Regions from separate parts of the Homo sapiens genome. Here regions 1, 2, 3, 4, 5 and 6 are each reported to be linked to region 7. Evidence: microRNA targets listed by miRTarBase, many of them from high-throughput screens and not tested one by one. Region 7 holds a microRNA gene; each other region holds the end of a gene's coding sequence.

Region 1 (3,116 bases), not on the chromosome of region 7:
GACAGCACAGAAACATGGATTACTTAGCCCTTTAGTTCTCAGATTGAGTTATATACTTCCCAGCAATTTCTGTTATTTAAGATTGCTATCTCATTTCTGGTGTAATACTTACATGGAAGTCTTTCTCTATTTGGGGGTGGTGGGGTTCTGGCACATAGGAATTTCTTAATGGCAGAATATTCTGAAATTCTCGGCATTAAAGTATACTTGATAATTAGTTCACTTAATATTAAAGCATGTTCATTCTTTTCTTCCCAGGTCGCTATTAAAGCATGAAGACTTTCTGAAACCTGCCCTAGAGCTGGGATATTGTTTGTGGGCAATATTTTTTATTGTCTCTTGTTTAAAAAGTGAACAGTGCCTAGTGAAGTTAGGTGACTTTTACACCTTTTACGATGACTACTTTTGGTGGAGTTGAAATGCTGTTTTCATTCTGCATTTGTGTAGTTTGGTGCTTTGTTCCAAGTTAAGTGTTTTCAGAAAAGTATGTTTTGCATGTATTTTTTTACAGTCTAAATTTTGACTGCTGAGAAGTTTCTATTGTACAAAACTTCATTTAAAAGGTTTTTCTACTGAATCCAGGGTATTCTGAAGATCGAAGCCTGTGTAAAATGCTACCAAATGGCAAAAAGCAACAATAAACAGTTTGATTTTTACTTTTCTTTCTAACATATCAATGCTTAGCAGAACTATTCAGATTGTCAGTAGTAAATTTAAAGACAAATGCCCGTTTTCCTCCAGTCCATGAAACATACCATACTTATATACCTGCAACTAAGTGTTTAAAATTATGCTCTGTAACTCTGTACTGCTAGTATTAGAACTAAAAATCTTAAAATACAGCCAGTGCTTAATGCTTATATCAATGTGGATTTGTCGGCTTTTATGTAATCTGTAATATGTATAGCAGGAAATACGAAGAGTTACACAGTGTATGCCTTAAAAGGCTGTTTCTTAAAGGTGTTACAAGGGGATAATGGTATTTCAACTAGTTATCAGCAAGTGACAATACATTCCACCACAAATACACTCTTGTTCTTCTAGCTTTTAGACTATATGAAAAAACCGGGTGCTTCAAAGTACATGATAAGGGAACACTATACCTGTCATGGATGAACTGAAGACTTTGCCTGTTCATTTTTTAAATATTATTTTCAGGTCCTTTGCTTACCAAAGGAGGCCCAATTTCACTCAAATGTTTTGAGAACTGTGTTTAAATAAACGCAAATGAAAAGAAAAATGTTGGTGCAGCTGTTCACAAAGAAGTGTTCTTGTTCTATTATAATTAGAGTTCTTCTGTAGTTTAATCGTTAGGGCAGTGTGTTCCTTGGGCTGAGGTGTATCTTTGCTATTTTGGGCTGGGTTGAGGGGGGGATGAATTTCTGTATTCCTGGAAAATTCAGAGTGCATAACTAGGTATTAGAGTGATCTCCATTTGGGGATGGAGTTACAGTAAATAACTAGACTGCGGGTACTTTAATACATGTTCTTATTATTTTGCATTTAAGTAATTTTCATGACCAATTGTAGGGATGTTGCTACAGGTGGGTTATTTTGTTGCCTTGCTAACCTTTATCGCATCTAGGTATTAGTATGTTTCAGGTACTTTGGGAAGAACTTTACATATAATCTTTAGCAATGAAATGATGTAGAGTAACTTACCTTAGTTCAAATAGCTGTTTAAGTGGCAATGCCACGATCTGAATTGAACCTAGGTGATCTTAGTCCACAGTTCTCTTGATCATGATGTCTCAAATCTGGGTACCTGGGTGATGGAAAATACCAGTAATGGAGCATAGGCAGTATTGGCAGGTCTTAATTTGTAAAACTTACTGTCCAGGGTGTTTTCAGTGTTTGCCAACTTGTGGTAAATTAATATGCTTAGAGAACTACCCTTAGGTTTGTTTCTGATAAGCATGTGGAAACAACTTAGTATATGCCTGATGGGTTATTTCAAATTGTTCTCAATGAGTTTTGAAACAAGAATTTGTAGTATTTATATATAAAGTTGAGTTTTAGGGTGTGGTCCCAGAGGGGGTTGTGTTATGGATGGATACATTAAAGGCTGAGAAACCTGGTTTTATCGTGGTAGTATATACAGGCATCCTTTCCTGAAGTAACTACATTCTCCACCATTTTCTCCCCAACCAAACCTCTCCCCATCAGTTAACTGATGGCTTGCGAGTTCACACTCCTGATAATCTCGAACATAACCCTCGGTTTCTATCCTAAAGCCTGAGTTTTAGCCCTTTAGTTGTGTAGCCATCCTTTATCCTGCTGATTGAAAGTTTCCTTTTTTAGGCTAGTTTGAGTTGTTTTCTGGCTTTTAGATTTGAAAGAATTTTAGCCATTTGACATGGCTACAAAGAGTGTTAACAGGCAAAAGACTGAGGAAAATTTGGAATTTTACCAAGTTGAGATAGACTGAGAAGTAGTGAGACAAAGTGGTAGTCTTTTGATGTGCTGTAATGCTAGTCGCCAGTTTCATGAAAGGGAGGCAGCAGTTACCCGTAGGTAACCCCTAGGTAACTGCTGCCATGGGCAGCTGAATCAGACAAAAGCCATGGGAAAGGATAAATTTGAGTCTTAAAGTTACTGCCTCAAGGCAAAGGGACTTGGAGGCTTTTATATGCCAATACAAACAATCCATTTCTTATAGCTGTAGGGCTGAGACTACTAAAACCAAATGTAAAGTTCATTTGGAAGATTGCTAAGTTAAATAGTTTTATACTAGGCTTTTGTGAAACTTCTCAGGAAATCAACAGGGTCCCAGCAAGTGGAAATAAGGCTGTGTCAAAAGATTTGTAGACCTGGGAGCAGGGGTTTCCGATCTCCTGGCCATGGATTGCCTGAGCTCCGCCGCCTGTCAGATCAGCAACAGCAGATTTTCATAGCAGGAATCCTATTGTGAAGTGCGCTTGAGAGGGATCTAGCTTGCACATTTCCTTATGGAAATCTAACTACATGTTAGAGAATGCTCAAGGTCTGCAATGTTTACATTGTTGCCCCTACATAAGGAATATATGCCTTAAGATAAAACTAATAGCTCTTAGCCCTCTTACACCATTGACTAGGATTCCAATTCTGCAAGGCCCAGGAGGAGAAATTGAGAATTA
Region 2 (3,116 bases), not on the chromosome of region 7:
GAGTCTAATTTTTTTTTTTTTTTTTAAGACAGAGTCTCCCTCTGTCGCCCAGGCTGGAGTGCAGTGGCGCAATCTCAGCTCACTGCAACCTCTGCCTTCCGGGTTCAAGCGATTCTCCCTGCCTCAACCTCCCGAGTAGCCAGGATTACAGGTGCCCACCACCATGCCCAGCTAATTTTTTTTTTTTTGAGACAGAGTTTCACTCTTGTTGCCCAGGCTGGAGTGCACTGATGCAATCTCGGCTCACCGCAACCTCTGCCTCCTGGGTTCAAGCAATTCTTCCGCCTCAGCCTCCTGAGTAGCTGGGATTACAGGCATGCGCCACCACACTGGCTAATTCTTGTATTTTTAGTAGAGACGGGGTTTCTCCATGTTGGTCAGGCTGGTCTCGAACTCCTGACCTCAGGTGATCCACCCACCTCGGCCTCCTGAAGTGCTGGGATTACAGGCATGAACCACTGTGCCCGGCCAAATTTTTGTATTTTTTAGTAGAGACAGGGTTTGACCATGTTTGAGACACAGTCTCACTGTGTTGCCCAGACTGGAGTGCAGTGGCACAATCATGGCTCACTGCAGCCTCGACAACCTGGGCTCAAGTGATTCTCCCCACTTAGCCTCTCAAGTAACTGGGACTACAGGTACACACTACCATGCCCAGCTAATTTTTGTATTTCTTGTACAGACAGGGTTTCACCATGTTGCCCAGGCTGATCTTGAACTCCTGGGGTCAAGTGATCTGCCTGCCTCAGCCTCCCAAAGTGCTGGAATTACAGGCGTGAGCCATCTTGCCTAGCTGATTTTTCTTTTTTTTTCTTTTTTTTTTTTTTTGATGGAGTCTTGCTCTGTCGCTCAGGCTGGAGTGCAGTTGCATGATCATAGTTCATTGCAGCCTCAACCTCCTGGGCTCAAGTGATCCTCCCACCTCAGCCTCCTGAGTAGCTGGAACCACAGACATACACCACCACACGTAGCTAATTTATTTTTATTTTTAATTTTTTTTGTAGAGACAGGGTGTCACTATGTTGACCAGGCTGGTCTTGAACTCCTGGCCTCAAGCGATCCTCCTGCCTCAGCCTCTCAAAGTGCTGGGATGACAGACATGAGCCACCAAACCCAGTGAGTTTGATTTTTTTTTTTTTTTGAGACAAGGTCTTGCTCTGTTGCCCAGGCTGAAGTGCAGTGGCATGATCATGGCTGACTGCTGCCTTGACCTCCTGGGCTCAGGCAATCCTCCTGCCTCAGCCTCCTGAATAGCTGGGACTACAGGTATGCACCACCACACCCAGCTAATTTTTAAATTATTTGTAGAGACAGGGGTTTCCCTAGGTTGCCCAGGCTGGTCTTGAACTCCTGGGCTCAAACAATCCTCCTGCCTCAGCCTCCAAAGGGCTGAGATTACAGGCACAGGCCACTATGTCCAGCTTGAGTTTGATTTTTTTTAAAGAGAAAATCAACAATCCCTTAATGAGCCTGATTTTAAGACTTAATGTGTCAAAATATGCAGTTCTTAAGACAAAGGGGGAATAGGTGTAAAAGAGGTCCTTGGTGTTCACAGCCTAAACCTGGACTCAGGGTTGGCTGCTATCAGGGTTGAGGGGTCCCTACCGCTGGACACCTTAGATGGCCTGAGAACCAAGCCCACATCAGTGCTATGGTCTAGCCATTCTCCCTCAAAGGGACCCAGCCTCCCTCCAGCCAGCCTGAGGCCCACTGGCATGCAGGGACCTCTGAGAACGACTGACTCCCAGGGATTCCTTGGCTCCTTACCTTCCAGCATTCTCCTGCAACCAAGCCCAGGGCACATGGGACTGTCCCTGAGCCAAGGACCCAGGCATGCTGTGAGCCAGGGGAAGGGGAGTAAAGAGACTGGTGGCTTTTACCCTCCATCTGAGGGTGGAGGGGCTGGGAAGGGACAGGAGGTCTGTGGGAGGTCACTCCAGAGGCTGGGAAGGGACAGGAGGGATTCTGTTGTTCTCAAGTGACCTATTTGACTTCCCCCTCCTGAGGAGTCAGCACACAGGCTGAAAGATGCAGTGAGACACAAGTTTATTGGTGGAGCTGCAGCGGAGTCCTCCCTCTTTCAGGGATAGCCAAGGGCACAGCACCAACAGAGGGATGGAGAGATAGACCCCCAAACAGACACATGGATGGAGCAGACTCATAGAAACCATAGCACAGCCACATAGGCACAGAGACACACAGGCCACAGCACCAAGAACACACACACACACACACACACACACACACACACACACACAGACAAAACCACAGGGCTAAGACACACGGACAAAGTGCGGGCTTTGGGGCCCCTGCATAGACAGAGCGAGGGCCATGTGGGGAGGGGGCCCCTACTGACCTCCCCCAGGCATAGGCACACCAACAGCACATAGACAGGCAGATGCCCCCAGCCAGCCAGCCTGCCACACAGACAAATGGACTGCAGGGAAAGGATGTTCGTGGCTCCACATGAACCATGGGGAGATGGCACCACAGGCCTTCAACACACCCTGCCACACTGAGGCCTGGGAGTCCCCGCCCCTGAACTAGTCACATCTATTCCCCTGACTCCCACCCCACTCCCCGCCACACTTTGGTCTTGCCCACTGGGGCTGGGGCTGGGGCTGAGGCTGGGGAAACTGGCAGGTGGTAGGAGGGAGAGAGGAAGGGGTATGGACCTGGCTCGGTCCCGTCTCTGTGATCAGGGCAGCAGATGCTGAGAGTCTGGGGCTGAGCCTCGGCCTGGCAGTGGGGTGAGGGCAGGGCCATGGCTCAGGCTTGGGGGGGTTCCTGGCAGCGCAGGCACTGGGCCATCTCCGGCTGATACTGCTCGACCTGCAGGGTGCAGCTGGAGAATCCAAACCGGGAGTAGAGCCGGGATGAGGCTTCAGCCAGGACGGCTTCAGGGTCAGCGGTGGAGTCTGTGGGAGAGTGATAAGAGGCGGCATCCATCCCGGGGGAGAAAGAACAGGCAGGGACTGAGATAAGGACAGGGAAAGGGGCTGCACAGCATTAAAGCCAGGCGTGAATGGAAGCCTGCTTTTCTTTCTGTATTGTATGAACAGCATAAAAGTGTCAAATCAAATGTTGGAGAGACTCACCCCAATCAACCATGCTAA
Region 3 (3,116 bases), not on the chromosome of region 7:
CTCCGGGCGCAGAAGACTGGAAGAAGGGCGCTGAAAGTCCAGAGAAGAAGCCGGCGTGCCGCAAGAAGAAGACGCGCACAGTCTTCTCGCGCAGCCAGGTCTTCCAGCTCGAGTCCACCTTCGACATGAAGCGCTATCTGAGCAGCTCGGAGCGAGCCGGCCTGGCCGCGTCCCTGCACCTCACCGAGACGCAGGTCAAGATCTGGTTCCAGAACCGCCGCAACAAGTGGAAGCGGCAGCTGGCGGCGGAGCTGGAGGCGGCCAACCTGAGCCATGCCGCGGCGCAGCGCATCGTGCGGGTGCCCATCCTCTACCACGAGAACTCGGCGGCCGAGGGCGCGGCGGCTGCAGCCGCGGGGGCCCCGGTGCCAGTCAGCCAGCCGCTGCTCACCTTCCCGCACCCCGTCTACTACTCGCACCCGGTGGTCTCTTCCGTGCCGCTGCTACGGCCGGTCTGAGGCCCCAGAGGGGTGGGGGAGGGAGCGCCCGGCCTCCTTGTCCGGACCCCGGAGGAGACTGGGCCGGGCCGAGGGCGCCGAGAAGTCCAGCGGCCTTCAGGAACTGGGGCTTGGGCGCGCAGCCTCTGCTTCCCCTCCCCCAGTCGGTAGCATTTTGTAAGTATTTGCAATGCATTTTCGTGCAATTCATCCCTAATGGATTGGAGGCGCTTCCCCTCTTACTTTTGGTTTTTGGCTTATATTAAGAGAAAGCAGGAACAAGACAAAATTTTCGGGTCAGAGATTTCGGCCGATAGTTTTTGTAAAATGTGCAGCCCTCCCTTCCAAATTTCCATTGCGCGGTGGCTTTTTGGTTTTATTTTTATAGAAGGAAAATAAGCGCAAAACCTAAATCCCTCTAGTTTATTCTTTTCTGCTTTTTTTTTTTTTTCCGAGACGGAATCTTGCTCTATCTATTGCCCAGGCTGGAGTGCAGTGGCGCGATCTCGGCTCACTTCGACCTCCGCCTCCCGGGTTCAAGTGATTCTCCTGTCTCAGCCTCCCGAGTAGCTGGGATTGCAGGTGTGTGCCACCACGTCCGGCTAATTTTTGTATTTTTAGTAGAGACGCGGTTTCACCATGTTGGCCAGGCTGGTCTTGAGCTCCTGACCTCGTGATCCGCCCGCCTCGGCCTCCCAAAGTGCTGGGATTACAGGCGTGAGCCACTGCGCCCGGCCTAGTTTATTCCTTTTCTATAGAACTGTTTTCAGAATCCAGAGAGGGAGAGAATTCATATGATAGTACTTTTATTTCTGGATTTCTGGGTATGTTTCTTCCTCCCAACCCCCAAATCAGTTATCCACCTTAATTTTCAAAATATGAGCAGCCTCTCATAAGAATCCCGACTCAGGCCGCTTTTCTCTTCTGGAGAGGTCTGTTGCAATTAGCCTCTTCATCGGTCTTACTTTGTGATGGAAGAATTCTCTAAGTGTCTAAAGAGAAAAGACAGCCAAAAATCAGAACTCTGACTATTTGAAACAGCTCCATATCTGGCCTGGTCTAAGTGGTCTTATTTATTAGTAGCATTTATTTTGAGAATTTCATTTGTAAATTATTATTAATATTACTATTATTACTTTGTTCCCTGTTTTGAGAGAGTAATTTCAGTATTTTTAATATGATATCTTTTATCCTCTCCTCTTACTTTTCATGTTCTGCAGTAATTATTGTACGTTGACCTGTGCAATATTGTACAAAATCTCCTGAGAAAGCTGTTTCCTCCTCCACCGTGGGAAACAGACCTTTTCACTGTATAATCATGGTCATTCATTTAGAAAGAAAAAAGTAGGCAGGGGAAAGGGGGGAAGAAAGAAACAAGCTTAGGTAGTGATGCTCAAAGGAGTAAGTTAGGCATACTGGAGCGCTTTAAGTGAAGGACAATCAATTTAGCAGAATTTTAACTTATTTGATAAATGTACAGATTTCTTGTAAAGTTCACCCTCTACTCCGCAGGGCTCCTGGCTCTGTCACCCAATCTGTTTTCTTTCTGTCGGTACACCTGTTGTTCTGTGATAGTTTGTTTCCCCTCATCTCCCTCACCTCTGCCTGGGTTGAGTCCCTTTTTAAGAAAAAGAGAAAAAAAAAACCCACAAAATATTGTTACACTAATGTTGTCGTGACATTGAATTAATTAAAAAGAAAAGAAAAGCTTTACGTGTTGCCAGAGTGTGTAAGTTTGGACGATTTTCCCTAGAGCAAATGTCTCCAAAACTCTTTTCTGTCTTGCTCGCTGACTGCCTCTGCGCTCTCTAAGTACAACCTGGACGCACAACCCTGTATTCCGGGAGGCGGTGGAGACAGAGGCGGCTTTGTTCGCGACCAGAGGCACTCTCTCCCCTGTACTTTCCGCGGCCTGAAACGCCCAGCGAGCAGGGAAGAATGCTGGGCGGAAGGGGAGTGGACTTAGGCTTATCTAGTTTGCGAAATTGAGCAAAGCGACAGCGCGCGAGGCGAGATACCAGAGACAGCTGGTATTTCCGAACACTGGTCTGCAGCCTCCCGTTCTGTTCTTAAACCTGGGTTCCTTCGGGAGCCGAGAGCTTTTGGGCAGGGCATCCCTGGGCATTCGTCAGCTGGTTAACTTCGGTGGGCTCTGGTTGGAGGGAAGAAGGGAGTGAGTTCAGAGTTTAGCTGCAGCCGTAGGCCGATTGCCAAGTCAGGCTAGGAAAGGCTGGGCCACAAGAGGACAACCCCAGGGACAGCCAGCTCTTGGGACAGCGGCTCCCACTACCAGGAGAGGGGAACTTCCTCAGGTCTTGCAGAGCTGAGATTCCCGGGGCGACTCGAGCATGGGCGCGGTCCTGATGTGCTAAGTGTGAGGGAACAGAGGCTACCTAGCTGCTGCAGCTGCAACAGAGAAGACCTTGTCTCTTCCGTGCCAGGCTCTTCTCTTTCCCCTGGCGCCCAACACCTCCTGGGCGGCATCTCTAGATCCCCGACCCTGTCCTGGCAGACGCCGAGAAGCGTAGCGCTCACCACACCCGCGCGCTACTGGGTTCCAGGCCGCCGCGCTCTTAGTGAGCAGCCTGCGGAGGCACAGCGCGCCGGAACCGCCTGGAAGGGTGGGTCCGCCCGACAGAAGCAGGTGCCTGGGCGACACTCGCTGGCCGGGTGTGGCCG
Region 4 (3,000 bases), not on the chromosome of region 7:
GTCTACGGTCTGGTATGATATAAAAGTCCTTTCTTGCATTCCAGGGTCTCCTCATGCTGCTACAGAACCTACCTACAATACACTGGGGCAACGAAGAAATTGGGCTGCTTCTCGCCGAGGCATACAGACTCAAGTACATGTTTGCCGATGCCCCAAATCACTACCGCCGATAGGTGCTGTCTCCTCCGGGGACCCAGACTGCCTTCATCTCTGATGGCAGTCTGATCACTGTGGCCACTGTGCGAGCCGTGGACCCCGGCCAGGAACCACTCCTGTTGTACAAAGCTCACACCCACCGCCCAGGTCTTAACTTTCTGGCATCCACCACTCCATGTCTCTGGATGTGTCACTTGGACCACTGTCAGTATTCCATGCCGCGTGGATGGGCCCAGTTCTGGGAGAGGACAGAAAAGGTGGTACAGGGTTGTCTGCCCCTTTAAAAGAAACTGGACAAAGAAGGGGAAGGCTCAGGGTCTCACCTCACATTGTCCCTACAAGGACAGGCCCCAACTGATAACCGTTGCTTTTTTTTTTTTGTGAACATAGTTTGATTTGATCACAGGTCAAAAACGCCTTATATTTTCGAAAGACTCCTGGCCCCTCTTCCCTCTTCCTGGTTTCCTAGCCGTTCCCCTTCTGCCCCAGTCTGAGCCAGTGAGGGGTAGCTTTTTAAAACCATTATTCTAGATGGAGGAGGCACTGATGCTTGTAACTCTGGAAAGAGGCCTACACCCAAGGGCTAGGAATTTTATTTTTCCTTTTCTCACCAGGTGTCTGCATGTGTGTGTGGGTGTGAATGTGTATACATGCCCATCAGCATTTAGTCACATGTCTGAATTTCTGTGTCCAGACGAGCCCCATCAAACTAGTTGGGAAGGGCCCCAGTGACCAAGTGTATAAGCATCCCTTGAAGAGGGATTGGGGCAGGGGAGGCAGAAGGGGCTCTCCAGACCCCTTTTCCATGATGACCCACTCCAAGATATTATGTGTAAATTGTGTTATTATGTATATGGGTAAAGATGTACAAATATATGTCCTCTTTGTAGCAGATATGATTTTATATTTATAATGTGCATCAACATGTGAAAGCAATCTAGGTCACTAGCACAGAGGAAGTTGCCAGGAAGGTGGCTTCAGCACCTCCAGGTTGGTTCTGGGTGTCCTGCTGTGAGGGGTAGAACGGGAGGCTGCTGAAGTGAGTAGCTGAGCAGCTGGAGCCATCCCAAGCATCAGTGTCTCAGAGTCCTCCTCGCCCCTTTCTTCACCCCGCCCCCCAACCCCCAGACTTTCCTGGAGCATCTGCCCTTTGCTCCTAGCAGCCTCCCCAGGAAGGGACTGCAGAGGCGGGCAAGCCCTCTCTATGTGTTTTTATCCCCACCTTCCCCGGAATCTGGGGAGGGCTTTTGTTTTTACGTTTTCAAGTTCAGCATTGTATTCGGACAGAAGCTGTGACTGAAGACTCAGTGCCAAGGAAAGGGGCTTCTTGTGTGTCCCTCGGGTTTGGGGCTCTTCTCAGAGAGCAGCACTCCATATCCCTTACTGTCACCTTCACTCCCCACACAGCTCATGAGATGTGTGACCCCTGTTTGAGTTTTGGTATTTGGTAGTGGAGGGTGGGGGGATGGGGGCCAGCAGCTGTCATCCTCCTGGGAAGCCGAGCAGTGTCCCTGGTGGGTAACACCCTCAAGTCTCTTTGCCAGTGAGGCCCCACCACATCGGTGTGAGTTAGGTTTCTCATCTGGAGCTGTTTCTCAGGCATTCTTCCCAACCCTCTTCCTTTTCCCCTTCGGTGTGCCTCAGTGGTCTCCTTCATAGAGTGAGAGGGCTTGAGACCCTCCCTCAACCGGACTAATTAAAGAAAGACACTTGTGTTCCCAAGTGGTGGTTTTATTTTTTTAGTTTTTATGTTTGTATGGGAAATTGTGGATAAAGTGAAAAGAATTGTAAATAAATGGTGTATTTCCTCCTCCATCTGCTGGTTTTTCTCCTGTATGTGTCCATGGAACCTAAAGAGTCTCCTCTTTTTGAGTTTTTCTTGCTGATACTAGTAGGTGTGTGGTCAGGCCTTCTGTGAGGTGAGCAGGGCATCAGCAGAGGATCAACCAGCAAACACTTACCCGACATCCATCTATGAAAGGTACTGTGGAAACTACAAAAATGAGTAACTTGGTAAATGAAACTACTAAAAAGAGTTAACTTGCCAACCACTTTGAGAAGCACTTTACATGGATTATTTCATTCATCTAAAAGAAGTATGTTATCTGATAGAGGGTAGAAAACAGACTAGAATTTCAGTGCTGGATGAAAACTTGGAGATATCTAGTTTAACCCCCTCATTCGCAGAGGAAAATCCAAGCCAAGGCCAAGGAAGACAGCATCAGAGTCAGAACCAGAGACCCGGTGTCCTCCTGGCTTGCCTGTTCAGTGTGTTTCCACCAGAGTAGAAAGAACTAAGATGGCCGCCATGTAGGATTGTCTTTAAGTCTTTTTTCGGTTGTCAGCTGTTGTTTTTTTTTTCTTGGTAACCTTACTGTGAAATATCTCAAGAAAGGTAGCTGATTACATTTCATCTACAAAGGACAGGTTGGAATGGTTTCTCCACCCAGAATTCCTTCCTAGGATTTATTTGAGAGTATTTCTTGGTTTCAGTCATTAGGAACCACATAAAAATTAAATTCAGCTATGTGTAATAAAAACCAAAAATAGGGCGGACGCAGTGGCTCATGCCTGTAATCCCAGAACTTTGGGAGGCCGAGGCAGGTGGATCACAAGGTCAGGAGTTTGAGACCAGCCGAGCCAACATAGTGAAATCCTGTCTCTACTAAAAATACAAAAAAATTAGCCAGGCGTGGTGGTGGGCACCTGTAATCCCAGCTACTCACAAGGCTGAGGCAGGAGAATCACTTGAACCCGGGAAGGTGGAGGTTGCAGTGAGCCGAGTTCACACTATTGCACTCCAGCCTGGGCAACAAGAGCGAGACTCCGTCTCTAAATAAATAA
Region 5 (3,116 bases), not on the chromosome of region 7:
TGCTTCTTTTCAAGATAAATAAAAGTAGAGCAATTTGTCTGTCTTTTTTTACTTTAATTACTGGATGACAGAAAGAATGAGATCCTTGAAAATTCCAAACTGCTTTGCTTTGCAAACTCTAAGAATAGTTGGATTTGCTTGCCAGCATAATTTGTTGTGAAACATACACAGTTATATAATGGATCTTCTTCTTTAACAGAGAAAATGTGTTTCTTAAAATACTTAATTATATAATTCTGGAAAGAAAATTATGCTAAAACTTTAATAGAAGAGGAAGAAGCAACCCAAGGTCCATAATATGGAAACACTCATGTTAAACTGTTCATATTTTCTTCTTCTCTTAGGTTTGCTCAATTCTTATTTACCGAGGAATTCAAGGCCGGTTCTCGGGTCCTTGAAAGTATATACAGCTTGTATGAAGGCTTCTCTGGGACAGTGTGCTTTCTGATTGACCTGCTGCAGCCCAATCAGGCTGAATTCCCACTCTTCAGCGTCTTTGTTTAGAAGGCTCTATCTTCCACTGTGGCCCTGCAGAGATCCCCTGAGCCAAGCCGAGGCAGTTTCCACATAAGCCACATTCAATGGTATCGCAACCATGAGCCTTAACATTGCCATCAGAAGGAAGGAATCAGGCAGGTGAAGGCAACATGATGCCAGATTTGAGAAAGGATCTGCAAAATAAAGATACCACAATTCATCTTAAAACTGCAGAGATTTAATGTGTCAGGGAATAGATGTGAAACAAGGGATCATAGGAAAAGGGGAAAGAGAAATGATCTGTTTTTCAGTTATGACATAGAAAACCAAACTGCAAGTGTAGACTATGACAAAAAATACACTAATACCTTTGCAATCTGAATGAGAATTTGACCATTTGTGTGTGCCCTCTACCCTTAAATTCAGAAATAAAGACAATAAAAAATTAAAATAATTGCCCAGCTGAAAACTGCTATGAGGAATGGATTGTCAGGTTGCTGAAGTATAAAAATAAACTCTTGGTTGTCCTGTGCTTATACTTATTGAAATTTATGGTTTTTACTGAGCAAAGATATTTGCATATGAATCTCTATTTTTTTCATTACCCTGGGCAATTTAAAGAAATCATATCATAGCGTAGTTCAGATACTAAAATTTGAAGTTTCCTTAGGCCCTAGAACATCTCTTTTCCTGGTTCCTTTTTTTTCCTCAAAGCTCAATTAGAATAGCAAAATTTATAAGCTAGTAAACTTATACTATAGCAAGTGTTGCTGTAAAGTGTTTTTCTCCATAGGAAGTGTGAACTGTGTATTGTCTATTGTTAGTAATTTTAAAAATGCCTTTATGTACATAATCTTGATGGAGCTATTAGCTGAACTATAAAATATGCTCTTGGTAAATATCACTAATTTCAAAGATCAGGGGAACCACTACAAAGACGTGTCATTTCTGCCTTTGTTTGGGACAGGCAGACAGGCTGAGGAAGTCACCAGTGATTGTGGAAATAATTTTGCTCCATTTTATACTATTAAATGAAGAGATGAGTGAATTCTGTGGTTGGTTACCTTACCTTCCAAGATACAGGGTCCACTAGAAATTGGCTGTAATACTCATTGAGCCAAGTTGTCATATCAAATTCAACCCTGCTGTAAACACATAGAAGTTGTGAAACTGCTTCAAGTAAATAGTGGTTTGCAGAACACTGTAGGAGCATCTGTCACTTCATTATGCAGAGCATAAGTTGATCCTTTTCCTAGAATTTTGTCAGTGGCAATTGCATATATCAGATTGAGTAGGAAATTGTGTACTGTATAAGACTTATTTAAATAGTCATTAAATATTTGGATATATTATGTGTGTGTGTGTGTGTGTGTGTGTGTGTATGGTGTGTATTCCATATCTATTCCCATGTAAATCCAAATACTTATTCTTTATTTCAGTAATTCTTAACTTGAATCATAGACTTTGGAACGAGTTAGGGAATGCTCTGTTGCCTAAAAAGCAAACCTACAAGTATGTTGGTGTGTGTATGTGTATGGACCAGTTTGTTTGTGTGTGTGTGTGCTCATTTTGAGGGGACAAGGATCTCTAGCATTCATAACATTCTCAAAGAATCTGACCAAAGAAAGGTAACAACTATCTTTGTGTATTTTATGACTGTGTGTGTTTGCACTCATTGCAATAAAGTAGGACAAAATGATTTTGAAATGCATACATCTTTTCAGCTTCCTGTTTCATTTTTACATCCTCAGATACAACCATATCAAATTGGCCTCAGTTGTTCATCAGTGAAAATGCTCAGTTTGGGGTGATACCACATAAATAGCAGCTTTCAGATGACTCCCCACATTGGGTCCAGAAGTTCTTTCATATAGGCTGAATATAATAACCATCCTATATACAGAGCTTTATGGAACACATGCAGTTTTTATCGTCCAAGAACCCCTCAAGATGTGTTTGGTAAATGCTCCAAAGTCTTACAGCTAGAAAAGGACAAAACCAGGATTCAAACCCAGGGTTTCACTTTCTAAGTTTATTTATTCAGTATTCTAGACTAGAATCTGGGGATACAATAGTGAACAAAATAAACTTTCCCTCAAAGCTACCTTCTGTTTCCATTTGCTGTTCCTTTCACAATTCATCCTTGAGACCTGAAACCTAAAGCACTCAGAACTGATACTCTAGTTCATTATCATATCAGTTCCATTTCTAGTAACTTCAGAAAAACAAGACCACTTTCAGGCCTATCTGCCCTTTTAAGTTCTGATAGGTCTGATGATGATGTGCTAACCATTTTGATTTGTGTGTCAAATCTAAGCAAAGACCATGTTTGAGTATTGTCTTTATGAAATGACATTTCGGTAAATTAGAAACAACAATAGGCTTGTTTAGCCCTTAAACATGTTGATGAAACTTTTCATTTTCCTGAAAGAATTATAGATTTTGGAAGGTCCTCTTCTATATTATTTTTCCAAGAAGGGGAAAACGATTCTTACATTTTGCTGTAGGAAAGTGTGGCATGTTACTTCTTATTTAATTATCCAACTTGCCCCCCTTCTCTGTGGTAGCATTTTTAATGTAGTACTTAAGGCTGTTGTCTCTTAAAGGCTACAGGGGCATTTTCACCACCACTAGTATAA
Region 6 (3,000 bases), not on the chromosome of region 7:
TTATATTTTCTTCTAAAGATTGTTTACAGAGCTGGAAATAGAAAAAATATCTCAAACTGCTGTGTGTTTGATAATTATAATTAGGTTATAATTCAATAAAGCTTAGATATTCTAAAAACTGTGTCATAGTTTTTAGTCTTCTGGAGGGGCCTCAAGTTCTATATTTGTTTGGAGAAAAGACTTGTATGATTAATTTACAATAACCCGTTGACAATTTTACTAAATATGTGTGTGCTTCTTTAATGTAGGAGCTGAAGTTGCTTTGGTTGGTGGCTTGAAACTTCTAGCTAGACTGTCACTTCTTACAGAACAAGACTTATGGACTGTTAATGGACTTCCAAACGAAAATAACTCTTCAGATCATCTGCCTTTATTGGCAAAGTTCAGACTTGAGCTCTGACTCTCTTTGATCACATACTAATTTTCTTTCCAATTTGTATTGTTTTTCAAAGAATGTAAAGTTCTTAAGTGTATGCATGTTGTTTATTTTTGCACTGTGGAGATTCTGAAGCGGTTATGTTAGATGCTTTGAAACTCCATATCAGAAGAAATAACTTTATAACAATTTTTTTTAATAATGAAAAATATTTTCGTGACAAGTGAGCTCTAAATTCTCTTTATTGTAAAAGAGATGTAAAGGTTTTATATTCTAAATCCTAGTAAAATTGACAGTGATTTTTAAATATAATGCATCTTCCTTTGTCTGCTTAGTAAAAAATTTCATTTCATAATTTTGGCAAGCTCTGTAGTGGATCCAAAGTATCTTTGAGTTCTTGCAAACTACAAGTTGTTTCCTTTCCAGAAGGCTTGATTTCATTAGGAGACCCCTCTATTGAGTTCTAAATAGTTTATCTTAGAAAGCCTTGGGTCATTCACAGGTATCCAACCAGCCATTGTTTAGTTTGTTTTTGAAGGGGTTTGATAATGCTTTTTAAGTTGTACAGAATGCTTAATCCATCTTATTACTGTCCTGAGCCATGTAATATGCCTGCATCGTGTTGGGGAAATGTTTGGGAAATATAAGCCAGCATAACGTGTAAAGCTCACTCTTTCACCCTGGAACAGACAAGAGGTGGGCTTAATAGAGGCAGAGACTGGGGATATACCTTTGTTTCCCTAGCATTTTTATTTATTTATTTTTATTTTATTTTATTTTTTGAGATGGAGTTTCACTCTTGTTGCCCAGGCTGGGGGTGCAATGGCGCAATCTTTGCTCACTGCAACCCCTGCCTCCCGGGCTCAAGCGATTCTCCTGCCTCAGCCTCTCGAGTAGCTGGGATTACAGGCATGCGTCACCACTCCCAGCTAATTTTGTATTTTCAGTAGAGACAGGGTTTCCCCATGTTGGTTAGGCTGGTCTCGAACTCCCAACCTCAGGTGATCCGCCCACCTCAGCTCTCAAAGTGCTGGGATTACAGGCGGGAGCCACTGCACATGGCAGCATTTTTTAAAAATTCAGTTTTAAGATCTCTGGTTTAGGGGAGAGATTTTATTTTACTGAACCAGTTCTATAGAAATTTATTTTATTAGGAAATTTGTCTTTGGAACAAAGTGGCAGCTATAAAATTATTTTTGTTAAGCCTCAGAAATATGAGGAAGCCTGTAAAACTCTAGTGGGGAGATATTAACTTGGAGACCTAATGCTCTGTAAATAGTCATTTAAACTGTTGGTTTTAGTGGTTTTGTTTCTAAAATGTTTTCTTTTACCGTGATGCACCAGTATGAGATGGTGCTGACACTTTCTATGAAGTGGTTATGAGCAGGTTTAATAAATCCTCTATACAAGTGTTTGAATCAATTTTAAAACATAAAAAGTGGAAATTTCCTTTTTTGTAGACAGTAGGAACAAGGAATTATATGCATTTTTACTAAGTAGTAATTTTACACTGAATTGTAAATGTTTTTACAGTGAGTTTTATTAATAGAATGCTTCACCTTAAATTGGAAAACAATAATAGTCTTGGACTAAGTCTTTGTACTAAAGCATTTGCTATAATTATTTTTAAAAAAACAAACAGATGAAAACCTCAGAGAAGGCATGTGGATTATAAGATTTGTCTAGTAAAAATTGTAATTGAATATGTTTAAATATTTAATTTCTCATTTTGGGGGGTTTTTATTTTTTTATTTTTTAGATGGTGTCTCACGCTATCGCCCAGGCTGGAGTGCAGTGGCGCGAACTCGGCTCACTGCAACCTCCGCCTCCTGGGTTCAAGCAATTCTCCTTCCTCAGCCTCCCAAGTAGCTGGGATTACAGGCATGCACCACCATGCCCAGCTAATTTTTGTATTTTTAGTAGAGATGGAATTTTGCCATGTTGGCCAGGCTGGTCTTGAACTCCTGACCTCAGGGGTGATCCACCCGCCTCGGGCTCCCAAAGTGCTGTGATTACAGGCATGAGCCACCATGCCTGGCCTTTGGGGGGATTTTAATTACAGTATTAATTATAGTTCTAGGATTTCCCACATTTTATAGTAGTAGTTTGCAGGATATTATGTGCCCTAATTAGCAGATATAGACATTATCAAATTATAATGATAGTATAATTATCCCTTTTTAATATTGGGGAAAGAAAAATGAAAATTCATTAGTTAATTACTGCTTTGTGTTGTGTGAATTTATTAACAAATAACATTATTACATATAGGTCATTGTTAACAAACAAACATCCCTGAAAACCTCTGTGAAAATTTAATTTTTTATATCCTGATTAATATATTGTGACTTTAGGCCCATTTTTCATGTGCTTCACTTTGATAGAGTTAATCCATAAAATTGCTCTTTACTTTAGCTTATCAAATGAAGTATTATTTTGTGGACTGGAGGCCAAAAAGTCAATGTGAGCTTCTCACAGGTTTTTAAAGCTCCACTAAAAATAATTATCCACTTGTCTTTACTTTTGTTGACCAGAATAGTTGGTAACTCTGCCAGAGCCTGTACTTACCTGCCAAAAACAATTAAATCTGGTTAATGCCTGAAACCAAATCTCTCAGTCTCAAG
Region 7 (3,116 bases):
CATTTTATAGTAATAAAAATTTTTACTTAGGAGCAAAAGAAGTATGTTATCAATCCCAAGGTAACTCTTTTTAAATGTGGACATATAAAATTCCAATTATATGTAGAAGGGCCTCTGCTTAAATCTAAGTTGTAAGAAGTTATACTATTAATAAGAGAACAGATATAAAAATAATAAAATCCTGCCATTTTCGGCAACATGGATGAGCATGGGGGACATTATGTTAAAAATAAGCCAGGCACCGAAAGACAAGTATTGCATGTTCTCACTCACGTGGAAGCTAAAAAATTTGATCTCATGGAGGTAGAGAGTATAATGACGGCTACCTGAGGCTGGGAAGGGTGTGTGTGTGTGTGTGTGTGTGTGTGTGTGTGTGTGTGTGTGTGTGTGTGTGTGTGTGGAGGGCTGGGATGTGGGATAAAGAGGGGTTGGCTAATGGCTATAAACATACAGTTAGCTGGAAGGAATAAGTTCTAATGGTCAATAGGACAGCAGGTGACCATAGTTAACAACAATGTATTGTGTATTTCAAAAGGGCTAGAAAAGAATATTTGGGATGTTCCCAACACAAAGAAATGATAAATGTTTGAGGTGGTGCATATCCTAAATACCCTGCTTTGATCATTACCCATTATATGCATGTATCCATATATCACATGTATCCCATAAATAGGTACTATTATCATATATTAATTTTTAAAAGCCACCTTAGTATGGCCTAGAAGTAGAGGATCAGTGTTGAGGGTATGGGCAAAATTTACCATTGTACCATGCCTGTCACTTAGATCACCCTCCAGCCTGGCCCCTGAAACGCGTACCTGAATGCTAGGGAGATACACTGAAAGAGCATTCCATTAAAATGCCTGTCAAACTGAAGGATGGCAAATTTCTGTACTTGAGGGTTTGTGGACACCCATAGGCAGATTACCAGCCAGTGGCTTCTGCAGCGCCAGGAAACCATGCCTGGGCACAGACCAGCAAATGTCATCAGCAATGGCCATTCCTTAGAATAGGCACAGCAGGGGGACCAGCTTCACAGGACCAGGGGCCCCTTTGCAGCAGAGTCTTCACCTCAGCAAGCAGAGCTCACAGAAAATGAGGGGTGCTGCATGGTATCCGAGAGTGCCAAGTTCATAAATACACATGAGGTTCACTTTGGGAATCCCATACAGAGCTGAAAGAGTGATGAGCATGATATTGAGCATTTAGGGAGCTTTGGTTTCCTCTTCTAGCAATTGTGGATAATAATACTTGGCTTGTAAAGTTATTGTGGGTAACAAATGTGCTAAAGGACATAAAAGGCATATCACACATGAGCTCCACCGGTTGGAGGTCACAGTTGTTGGAGGCCACCTTCATCCCTTGTGTGGCATAGAGAAGCTTCAGAAGCTCTTTTTTCTGTATAGGCCTCTCATCATGCCAGGTGTGTGGTATTCAGCCTTATCTTTAAAATATGGTACCCTCTTCATTGTATTTCATCCTGCCGTCTTACTACAAAAGAGGAGGAGTCCTAAAGGAAGTTAGTAAATACAAAGAAGTTCTTAAGGTCAACCTAAGATAAAGAAATGCTTGCTTGTAAGTGCTGGGTGATTGAATCTATAATTTGCGTCAAGAGAAGTGAAGAAAAATGTTAGGGTGGTGCAAAAGTGATCGTGGTTTTTGCAATTTTTTAATGACAAAAACCACAATTACTTTTGCACCAACCTAACCTTGTTTTAGGCATGTATCTATTTAAAGACACTTTATTTTACCTATAACGTTGATGGGTTTACATTGAACTCAGGGCCAATAGCACTGTAACTCGCACCCAAACAAAGCTTGTCTCACGTGGATTTTCTGCACAGGACACAGCACAGCATCTTTGTGCTTAGGATACCAGGTAGCACACTGACATTATTCTCGGGAGGCTGTTTTAAACAGCAAAATTACCAACTAAAAGCACAAAAATGAGAAAATCTGTGGCACCAAACAAACTGCAAATAGGACACTTGTTTTCTCTCTCGTTTTTTTTTTTTTTTTTTTTTTTTTTTGAGATGGAGTCTCGCTCTGTAGCCCAGGCGTGGCGCCATCTTGGCTCACAGCAAGCTCTGCCTCCCAGGTTCACGCCATTCTCCTGCCTCAGCCTCCCGAGTAGCTGGGACTACAGGCGTCCACCACCACGCCCAGCTAATTTTTTTTTTTTTTTGTATTTTTAGTAGAGATGGGGTTTCACCGTGTTAGCCAGGATGGTCTCAATCTCCTGACCTCTTGATCCGCCCTTCTTGGCCTCCCAAAGTGCTGGGATTACAGGCGTGAGCCACCGCACCCGGACACTTGTTTACTCTATGAGCAGAAACAAGAAACAGAACATCCTCGTGTGCATGCCCATCAGGCATCTCCAATTGCAATCCACATTTGTGGACGTAGAATCCACAAATAATAAGGAGCCACTGAATTTTTGTATATTTAGTATGGGGCTCAGGTTAATCACAGAAATATTTACTATATAGTTAGTGGGCAAAATGCCCAGTACCCCATTATAATAAACCCAAATCTCAGTAACAGTGAAGATGTTTCTCAGAGGGGCATGGCTCCTCTGATGTTTGTCAGATAAGCATGTCTTATTATAGGGGCACTCAGACAACAGAGGCACAGAACAAAACAAAATATTTTTTGTCTGTTAATTTATTTCAAAAATGAAATCTGATAATGGCTTTTAGAAATGTGAAGACCAAAAAGCATCAAATTTTGTTTTTCCATTTAAGGAATAGAAATAAAGTGGCCGAGTTATTATTATATGTTCCGCCCATAATTCATCTTTCCTTGCTCCTTCCCACCCCTCCCCACTTTATCTTCCACCTCCTTTTATAGATACCTAACTGCTAAAATGGGCTTGGGAAGGCAGCTGGAATCATGCCAAGGTGTACCCAACAGAAGCTGCTGCAGTTAGTGACATGAGCTATGGAACACAGGAGGTCTTTTGCACTGATTGGAATATTTATTAGATTTAGTGCTGAAATAGTCTCTGCTGATAAGCAGACCTAATCTGAATTTCAAAGGTCCTTATGACCACGTAAATGTGATAGTATCATATCCTCAGGCCCCAAGTGCATCACCTTTCCTAAATGGTTGGATGC

The links. Region 7 holds the annotated microRNA hsa-miR-548ap-3p (AAAAACCACAAUUACUUUU, at 1,678-1,696, shown strand). A microRNA usually pairs through its seed, bases 2 to 8, with sites in the 3' UTR of a target mRNA and lowers its output. Matches are read on the target gene's strand: a 7mer-m8 pairs with bases 2 to 8, a 7mer-A1 pairs with bases 2 to 7 and ends in A, and an 8mer does both.
Region 1: the mRNA of TRA2B is a reported target of hsa-miR-548ap-3p. Seed matches in the 3' UTR shown: 8mer at 2,076-2,083.
Region 2: the mRNA of SLC30A3 is a reported target of hsa-miR-548ap-3p. Seed matches in the 3' UTR shown: 7mer-m8 at 2,262-2,268.
Region 3: miRTarBase lists HMX3 as a target of hsa-miR-548ap-3p. Seed matches in the 3' UTR shown: 7mer-m8 at 684-690 and 8mer at 809-816.
Region 4: the mRNA of TBC1D22B is a reported target of hsa-miR-548ap-3p. Seed matches in the 3' UTR shown: 8mer at 1,883-1,890.
Region 5: miRTarBase lists LANCL3 as a target of hsa-miR-548ap-3p. Seed matches in the 3' UTR shown: 7mer-m8 at 1,030-1,036.
Region 6: miRTarBase lists ANGEL2 as a target of hsa-miR-548ap-3p. Seed matches in the 3' UTR shown: 7mer-A1 at 639-645, 8mer at 1,669-1,676 and 7mer-m8 at 1,678-1,684.

The regions. Positions count from the first base shown.
Region 1 is chr3:185,914,868-185,917,983 of GRCh38, reverse strand. TRA2B (transformer 2 beta homolog) reads left to right here. Exons shown (of 9, transcript NM_004593.3): 9 at 259-3,116. The coding sequence ends at 269. Among named protein-coding and RNA genes, the nearest start is that of TRA2B, 22 kb to the left of the region's middle.
Region 2 is chr2:27,252,543-27,255,658 of GRCh38, forward strand. It overlaps SLC30A3 (solute carrier family 30 member 3), which reads right to left. Exons shown (of 8, transcript NM_003459.5): 8 at 1,142-2,918. The coding sequence ends at 2,770. Among named protein-coding and RNA genes, the nearest start is that of SLC30A3, 8.9 kb to the right of the region's middle.
Region 3 is chr10:123,137,274-123,140,389 of GRCh38, forward strand. HMX3 (H6 family homeobox 3) reads left to right here. Exons shown (of 2, transcript NM_001105574.2): 2 at 1-2,150. The coding sequence ends at 458. Among named protein-coding and RNA genes, the nearest start is that of HMX3, 2.9 kb to the left of the region's middle. RefSeq lists enhancers at 45-1,009, 2,050-2,819 and a silencer at 2,254-2,303.
Region 4 is chr6:37,331,000-37,333,999 of GRCh38, forward strand. It overlaps TBC1D22B (TBC1 domain family member 22B), which reads left to right. Exons shown (of 13, transcript NM_017772.4): 13 at 45-1,971. The coding sequence ends at 173. LOC105375040 (a long non-coding RNA gene) reads right to left here. Exons shown (of 4, transcript XR_007059566.1): 4 at 2,071-2,149. Among named protein-coding and RNA genes, the nearest start is that of RNF8, 21 kb to the right of the region's middle.
Region 5 is chrX:37,675,310-37,678,425 of GRCh38, forward strand. LANCL3 (LanC like family member 3) reads left to right here. Exons shown (of 5, transcript NM_001170331.2): 5 at 345-3,116. The coding sequence ends at 504. Among named protein-coding and RNA genes, the nearest start is that of XK, 8.9 kb to the right of the region's middle.
Region 6 is chr1:212,992,441-212,995,440 of GRCh38, reverse strand. It overlaps ANGEL2 (angel homolog 2), which reads left to right. Exons shown (of 9, transcript NM_144567.5): 9 at 249-3,000. The coding sequence ends at 400. Among named protein-coding and RNA genes, the nearest start is that of ANGEL2, 22 kb to the left of the region's middle.
Region 7 is chr4:173,266,528-173,269,643 of GRCh38, forward strand. It overlaps MIR548T (microRNA 548t), which reads left to right and starts at 1,633; the gene lies at 1,633-1,706. The region is part of intron 2 of GALNT7 (polypeptide N-acetylgalactosaminyltransferase 7); the gene reads left to right. It overlaps LOC124900812 (a long non-coding RNA gene), which reads right to left. Exons shown (of 3, transcript XR_007058367.1): 2 at 1-3,116.